2 separate regions of the Homo sapiens genome follow, and region 1 is linked to region 2. Evidence: fine-mapped expression QTL. Tissue or cell type: nucleus accumbens. Region 2 holds a variant in brackets; the other region holds the start of a gene. All regions are shown on one strand. Distances are from middle to middle. Region 1 holds the start of PCDH10-DT (PCDH10 divergent transcript). Region 2 overlaps PCDH10-DT (PCDH10 divergent transcript).

Region 1 (4,402 bases), 54 kb after region 2:
ACACACACAAGTGTTTCCATACGTACAAATGAACGCATTAGAAAATTACCGTCATTTTTTAAAAGGCTCCAGGATTCTGACGAGTCAGCTTGAAGAGCTCAAAACATTTCATTTCAATTCTGCAGATCTGAAGAAAAAGAAAGGGGGGAGGGGTGGAAGTACAGATGCAATACCGTATTAATATTCAGATACACTATAATCTCCTTTTCATTGATCCACAGGTCCCTTTATACACTGCCGCTCCATTCTCAGCCGCAGACGTGATGCTAAAATCATTTTAACTGCAGCGGTTTTCGCTTGGCTTTGGCCAGTCTTCAATTTACTGCAGCTGGAAAAGGATTAGCCATTTTTGCTGGAATCCTTTCCTTCTAAGCGCTCAAAGGCAGGACCCATCTTCATGAAAGAGCCAAGTGCGGGGGCCGGGGGGACCCGGCGTTGCGGGGAGTTGGGGCGCGGAAATCAGGGCAGTAGACGTGCATTCGCGGGACTCTCAGAAGCACGTCTCAGGCTACTATCACGCCCATGGACACTAGCCCTCCTTAACTCCTTGCCAGGAGGAAATGGCAACGTATCTCCAGGTCGGAAAACGACTCTACTTTTCCCGCAGGTTGTGGTGGTGTATTCTTGGGTCATTCATTACCAGAAAGCAGCAAAGGACCTTCCTATCTCTTTGCATAAAAAGGAGATTGAATAGGGGCTTCTTTCGTGAATAAACAACCAATTCCTTGCTAGTGGCCCATTAATTAAAAATATATATTTATAGATCTTTCCTTAGAGAACTGGCATTCTATCCACTCTCCAGCATTAAAGAGTTCGCGCTGTGTTTTAACTTCACAAGAACTAGCTATGTGGATGTGCCGCGTTGCCCCTGCGCCTCCGGAAGGGGCACTCACAGCTGGTCAAGCGCGTCCTTCGGAACTCGGGGAGGCTCCGTTGGGGCTTACACAGAGCTAAGCCCTGGGCCAGGGAGGATGGATGCAAGTACCGTGCATGTGCAAACGTGTTCGCAGATACCCGCAGCGGTGCACACTCGGGCCCCTCGTGTGCACGGGCCCTGCCCACCACCCCGCCCGCGTTCGCCGCCGCCCCACTGTCCTCATCCCGCGGGCTGACCCCAGGATTGGCAGAAATCAGTGGTCTAATCTAGCATGGTGGGTAAAGGGATCGATCTCCAATTGCCAAAAAAAAAATAGAAAATAGCCGGTGTTCCCAGCCGCTGCGTGGCACTTGGCCGCACAAGGCGCAGGGATATCAGAGGCGCTTTGCAGCGCTTGGCGGTGCTGTGTGCCGGATGCCCCAGAGCCCGGCGTTAGGATGGCGGGCTTGTAGGAAGCGGCTCAAATCAACTCCTCAGTCACTGATGAACGCGCTCACGGCTCGAAGCTAGGTCCTCGAGTGAGTTAATCTACTTGGTAAGTATTTTGTGAATATGTATTTTGGGAGGAAAGAAGCACGTCGAACGCGTCTGCCCGTCTGTAAGCGCTGTCATCCCCACATCCTTTAGCGTGAATTCCTCCGCTTTTTAGGAGTCACCTCCACCCCCTACTCCGTATGCTTCGCGCCTTTCCTCACGGCCCCGTCAGACCCCCTCACCTTTAGATTGACACATGCCATATAATACTCACTTTTAAAATGCCCTGCCAGTCTCTGCTAGGGTCCCTTAATTAGGTAACCCTTGCCAATTAGTGGGCCCTGCGCTACTTTTTCCCTTCTCGATGATTTATTTCCATGATGCGTATTAGGGAAAATACCTTAAAGGAAAAAGAATGTTAGCATCATTGGAAATCCCGCTCCTAGGAGAGGATATCGCAGCTGTTGCTATTATGTTTTCGCATTTGCTGATGCAAACAGGGGAACCTCTCTATTCCCTCCCCATTACCTGCGGCTGGGGACTGGGAACTTTCCGCGGCATTGTCCCCAGCCAGCGCCTCGGGACCTGCGGGGCTGTTCTCGCTCTCACACTCACACTCACCCCGGCCGCTCGGGCGAGAGTTCTGTCCCGCCCCGCCCGGCTGCCGCGTGACGTGTCTGTTTGGCGGCCAGTTTGGCCAATCATCGGCAGCTCGGTGGGTGGTGCTCCTGGGCGATTGGTTGGCAGAATGAGGGCGCTGCGCAAAAACGGAGAAGCCGAGCGCTCGGAGCTCAGAAACTGCCAGCCCAGACCACAGGCTCAGAGGCTGAAGCAGGAGGAAGGAAGGACTGGAAGGAAAAAGAGACAGGTTAGAGGGAAAGAGGCTTGGGAAGAAAACAGCAGAAAAGAAACTGCTCATTACACTTACAGAGAGGCAAGTAACGGTGGAGATGAGGACAGAGGGAACCAAGACTCTGAAAGACAAAAAATACAAATAGAGCGAAAGAGGAAAAAAATGTCAAGAAGAACATCCATCCGGAGAAATGAAGAGAATGAAAGTTTTAAGCTGCAGAGCCGTTCTGTGCTTTTCCGGCACAAAATTATATCGCTGATTTTAAGCCCTTTTGCATTTGCCAGCCGTTGACATTAAGAGGCATGTTTAACGGTGCCAACAGCATCTCCTTTTCCTTCTCCTCTTCCTCTTCTTCTTCTTCCTCCTCCTCCTCCTCTTTTTCCTCCTCCTCGTTCTCCTCCCATCAGCAAGAAGACAAACCGAGGACAGTCTTGAAATATCGAAATTTCCTCTTTGGGATTTGCCAGCGCCAAGACTGTCGGAATAAAGGACGCTGACTATTGTATTATTGTTATTTTATTAATTAGTCAGTGGAAAGATTACAGATGAGGAAAGGGGACGCCTGTCACCCTTCCTGTGCTAAGATTTAAAAAAAAATGAGGCTGGATTGCGGGAAGCTCTAAAATGAAGCAAAAGGAGTAAGATTTTTAAAGACAGAAAGCCACAGGAGCCCCCACGTAGCGCACTTTTATTTGTATTTTTTCAGATTTTTTTTTGTTTCGTGGTGGTGGGGGAGGTGATTGGGTGGCTGACTGGCTGCGGGAAGCTACTTCCTTTCCTTTTGGAGATGATTGTGCTATTATTGTTTGCCTTGCTCTGGATGGTGGAAGGAGTCTTTTCCCAGCTTCACTACACGGTACAGGAGGAGCAGGAACATGGCACTTTCGTGGGGAATATCGCTGAAGATCTGGGTCTGGACATTACAAAACTTTCGGCTCGCGGGTTTCAGACGGTGCCCAACTCAAGGACCCCTTACTTAGACCTCAACCTGGAGACAGGGGTGCTGTACGTGAACGAGAAAATAGACCGCGAACAAATCTGCAAACAGAGCCCCTCCTGTGTCCTGCACCTGGAGGTCTTTCTGGAGAACCCCCTGGAGCTGTTCCAGGTGGAGATCGAGGTGCTGGACATTAATGACAACCCCCCCTCTTTCCCGGAGCCAGACCTGACGGTGGAAATCTCTGAGAGCGCCACGCCAGGCACTCGCTTCCCCTTGGAGAGCGCATTCGACCCAGACGTGGGCACCAACTCCTTGCGCGACTACGAGATCACCCCCAACAGCTACTTCTCCCTGGACGTGCAGACCCAGGGGGATGGCAACCGATTCGCTGAGCTGGTGCTGGAGAAGCCACTGGACCGAGAGCAGCAAGCGGTGCACCGCTACGTGCTGACCGCGGTGGACGGAGGAGGTGGGGGAGGAGTAGGAGAAGGAGGGGGAGGTGGCGGGGGAGCAGGCCTGCCCCCCCAGCAGCAGCGCACCGGCACGGCCCTACTCACCATCCGAGTGCTGGACTCCAATGACAATGTGCCCGCTTTCGACCAACCCGTCTACACTGTGTCCCTACCAGAGAACTCTCCCCCAGGCACTCTCGTGATCCAGCTCAACGCCACCGACCCGGACGAGGGCCAGAACGGTGAGGTCGTGTACTCCTTCAGCAGCCACATTTCGCCCCGGGCGCGGGAGCTTTTCGGACTCTCGCCGCGCACTGGCAGACTGGAGGTAAGCGGCGAGTTGGACTATGAAGAGAGCCCAGTGTACCAAGTGTACGTGCAAGCCAAGGACCTGGGCCCCAACGCCGTGCCTGCGCACTGCAAGGTGCTAGTGCGAGTACTGGATGCTAATGACAACGCGCCAGAGATCAGCTTCAGCACCGTGAAGGAAGCGGTGAGTGAGGGCGCGGCGCCCGGCACTGTGGTGGCCCTTTTCAGCGTGACTGACCGCGACTCAGAGGAGAATGGGCAGGTGCAGTGCGAGCTACTGGGAGACGTGCCTTTCCGCCTCAAGTCTTCCTTTAAGAATTACTACACCATCGTTACCGAAGCCCCCCTGGACCGAGAGGCGGGGGACTCCTACACCCTGACTGTAGTGGCTCGGGACCGGGGCGAGCCTGCGCTCTCCACCAGTAAGTCGATCCAGGTACAAGTGTCGGATGTGAACGACAACGCGCCGCGTTTCAGCCAGCCGGTCTACGACGTGT
Region 2 (4,402 bases):
CTTGTCTGTAGCTATTACCTTGCTAGTAGAAAAAAAAATGAGAAAATATTATTCCATTATTCTAAACCTATTATCTAATTCGGCAAAGAAGTTGCTCACATCACTGATGAACAAGTGAAGTTCAAATACATGTCTGTGTTATTTCACTGTCTTATTAATGTAAATGAAAATATCAACCAACATTCATGCCAGGACTACACTTGTTAGTGAATACACTTGTAAGCTGGCTCCATATACAGGAGTTCAGCAAAAGTCAATGAAAGCATTCTATGAAAAGCAATCGGCTATACAGAATTTACAATAAATAATATTGAATATTTTATTATTATTTGTAACTTGTGTTACACAACCTTTATATCAATAAAATTTATGATAAACATATTAGTGTGTATATATACATATATACACATTTGAGTGTATATGTATCTATATAAACATATACATATATGCATTTTTGAGAGCCTGTTGAACGTTTACCACCATAACACTTAGAGACACCCAAGTGTTATCTAATAAATTAGATCTAATAATACTTTTTTTTTTATTGTCATGCAAAGGATCTTCCAAAGTCATCGCCAAGAGAAGGATCCCTTTTGACAGGATCTAGGATTGGTACCCATTATGAAGGTTCAGTAACTCTCCTAAGACCCATAATTAGTAAGTGGCCATAGGAGGCTCTAAAACCAGAAAGTCTTAACTCCAGAGGCTACTTTTTGACTCTGCAATCTTTCATGAGAGCACAGCATTCATCTCAGGAAAGCACAAATGTTTTAACATTAGAAAAGAAGAGCAAATAAGACTTTTTTAATTGTACATGCATTTATAATAATATAAACTCTTGAAAATAGAAAATAAATAACTTTATAGTGTTTAACTACTAAAACTTACAACAAGCCTCTCACTGATATTTAGTACTAATACTTAGAAGCATTTTATTTAACATTAGATGCAAAACAATACTTTTTAAAAAAATTGCACATGCATTTAAAATAATAAAAAATTCTTGAAAATAGACAAGAAATAACTTTATAGTGTTTAACTACTAAAACTTATAGCAAGCATCTCACTTATATTTAGTAGCATTTTATTTAATATTAGGTACAAAATAAGATTTACCACTCTCTCCCACAGTAATCAATATTTTGTTGGAATTAGCTAAGGCTTTATGAAAGCAAGTACAAATGAGTAGTTTAAAAATTTTATTGTAATAATAATTGTATTTGCTTTATGCACACGATATTATTGTCTACTAGAAAATCCAAAATACTAAGCCAATGGTAGAATCACTAAGGAGTTGGGCAAAGTTCTTAGTGAGGCAATATCAGATACTGGTAAATATTTCAGGCTGGATGCAGTGGCTCACGCCTGTAATCCCAGCACTTTGGGAGACCGAGGCAGGTGGAACATGAGGTCATGAGATCGAGACCATCCTGGCTAACATGGTGAAACCCCATTCTCTACTAAAAATACAAAAAATTAGCTGGGCGTGGTGGTGCCCACCTGTAGTCCCAGCTACTCGGGAGGCTGAGGCAGGAGAATTGCTTGAACCCAGGAGGTGGAGGTTGCAATGAGCCGCGATTGTGCCACTGCACTCCAGCCTGGGCAACAAAGCGAGATTCCGTCTCAAAAAAATTTTTTTTAAAAAGCAAAAATAAAATAAAATAAAATGGATTTCAAGCTCTGGAGACAAACTGCATGGATTCAAATAAAGCTTTACTCTTATATGACTTAGCACATGTTACTTAAGCTCTTTGTACCTCGATTTTCTTACTTGTGTAATGGAGATAATAACGGTCTCTTCCCATAAGAATATATAATAAGTTGATATATGGATGGAACTTTGACAACATCTGTCACATAGTAACCACCATGTAACTCGTCGATTGTTATTTTTATTACTAAATACCCACAATAATATTCAAAAGTGAAAATAAATAACACACCCATGGTTACAAGGATGTGTAAATTCATATCATAAAAATGTCTATTTTCTACAAGTTAGTCTACAAATTTCATGCAATTCAAATTCAAATCCCAAAAGTGATTTTCAAAGCTGACAACTGAACCACAAATCTCTATGGAAGAATAAAAAGAAATGCACAACCAAGACAAATTTAAAGCTACATCATTAGAAGGAGCACTTCATCCTGTCAATATCAGAACACTATATTAGTACCAATTGTATGATACTGGCACAGGAATAGACAAGCAAATAATGAACAAATCAGAGAGCCACGATTCATATCCTCATATATAAATATTCATATCTAGTAACAGTGCCTTTATAAATAATTAGGGAAATGCCACAATATCTATTCAATGGATTATGTTGGAACAATTGATTACATGATTACATGAGAAAAATAAGTAAATTTGTTCTCTATATGATATCATATAAAATAAATTTTATTTATGATAAAACTGA[G/A]TGACAACACTCAGAGATAGAACACTGTATCAGGTCAAACTCAATCCTACATTAGTGTCTGATAAAGGTCTATAAATGAAAATCCTTCTCCTGCTGCTAAAATATTCTCATTTTATGTTAAGGAGAGAAAGGTTGTGAGAGGTGATTAGGATATTACTTTATGATTCCATGCATATGTTTTTAAATTCATGACACTCTAGGAAAACTGTAAATCTACTTGTGAGCATTTGTAGTTACAGGTGAAATTCAGATAGATCCCCATTAGTGAACATCTGTTTTGTTTTTACAACTTTTTTCCCTTTCATCTGATAGATGAACCTCTATTTCATAAATAGGACTGACTCATTGTGTGGTTCTGATGTGTCTCCTACCACAAAATTAGGAGTGTGTCATGAAATTTCCCAAACTCATTGCTTTGGACATGGGCATATGACTCAGGGTGGATCAATTACTGTCCTTTCGAGACTTAGTCTGGAAGAGATATTGGAGAAGCAGAACTCCACTTGCCAGAATATGTGGATTTAACGCATTCTGAGACTGAGTCAGCAAGTTGCCATCTTCACCATAGAGAACCTGTGCAGAAAAGAAATCAACATAGAGAAAATCTAAGCCAAAGGAAAGGAGTAGGACAGATTTCTGATTATATAAAATGCACTTTAATAGATCATGACATAAGCCAGAAATATTCTTTTAATTTAGCTCTTTTCATGCTGAATTTAATTATTTCACTTAAAACTTACTGTTTTCACCATAAAAAATAATTTGGTGATTTAGACATTGAATTAGGACCACATAGTTATACAAGTATTATTGTAAAATTGATTACAAACAATAATGTGAAGCTAGAAGTAAATGATGTTTCATTCAGGATGAATTTATTAATACATGTGCTTACGGTTACTTCTTCAATAATCTTGTTTTTATTAGGCAAGATCAACTAGCTACTGCAACAAATGGACTCAAAATATGAAATAGCACATAATGGAAATGTATTTCTTGTTTACAAGAGTAAACAGATCAGAGAACAATTCTCCTCCAAATGGCCAACAGATACTCTGCCATCTTCACCCTATGCCATCCAAGACTTCCCTGACAGTCTTCTCCATTCCACTAGACAGGGAGCAAATAAAGCTTAAAGGACCATACATGGGAGTTTTTAATGAGTCAAGTCTAGAAATGATATATATCCACTGTGTTCATACTTCATTGGTTAGACCTCAGGAAATGTCCACACAAAAAAGCAAGAATAGCTAGGAAAAGTCTATTTCTAACATCAATAAGAGGAGAATCAGGATGTTGGTAAGCAGTAAGCAAGTTCTGCAAAAACAGTTATTGTAATAATAAATATTCATGTGTACCTGTTCCCTCAGGTAGTATACGCTCACCCCACGGTAGACAAAACTAAGTCCCATCTAGTTAGTATAATCAGCTCAACGTTCAGGATCTGTGGGTATTGAACACTTCTCTCCATCATGACTGGGAGTGGTTGTTGTGGTCCTGCAAAGCCTGATATAAAAACAATCAGTCTTATGTATGCTGTCAGTGGTAGAGCAGGGATAAGATAACTATAGTAGACAAGTAACATTTAAGAAAGGGAAAAAAGAACACAGAACACACACCTGATAATAATAACCATACAATCCTGCTGGGTAGGTCTTACAAAGCACCCCTAATGAGACACACATGATTTGCCCCTCTGTGGGGAAAGTTCCTTAATGAGACCCACATTCCTGGCTAAAAGTTACTTCCTTGTTTATTGTTCTCCATGACCTCAGGTTCTGCTCCCTGGGAAACACTTGCTTGTTCTTTACCCTTGGGAACTATCCATCTTATACTCGTTGTTTCTTTCTTATGAAAATGTAGGGGCCAGAGGATTGCTTTGAGTGTAATTTTCCTCCTAGCTCAGGATTTCTTTGAGAAAACAATTTCCTCAAAAACTTAATAGACTTTGGATGTATTTCTTTCAAGTCAATTTCA

Evidence for each region.
Region 1: it holds the start of PCDH10-DT, and the variant in region 2 is fine-mapped to the expression of PCDH10-DT in nucleus accumbens (GTEx, PIP above 0.99).

What each region holds. Positions count from the first base shown.
Region 1 is chr4:133,147,150-133,151,551 of GRCh38, forward strand. It overlaps PCDH10-DT (PCDH10 divergent transcript), which reads right to left and starts at 1,967. Exons shown (of 9, transcript NR_125885.1): 1 at 1,880-1,967; 2 at 50-127. PCDH10 (protocadherin 10) reads left to right here and starts at 2,145. Exons shown (of 5, transcript NM_032961.3): 1 at 2,145-4,402. The coding sequence starts at 2,992. RefSeq lists an enhancer at 1,889-1,948 and a silencer at 2,059-2,198.
Region 2 is chr4:133,092,953-133,097,354 of GRCh38, forward strand. It overlaps PCDH10-DT (PCDH10 divergent transcript), which reads right to left. Exons shown (of 9, transcript NR_125885.1): 8 at 3,784-3,931; 9 at 908-2,998. Among named protein-coding and RNA genes, the nearest start is that of PCDH10-DT, 54 kb to the right of the region's middle. The variant G/A (reference allele first, on the strand shown) is at 2,426.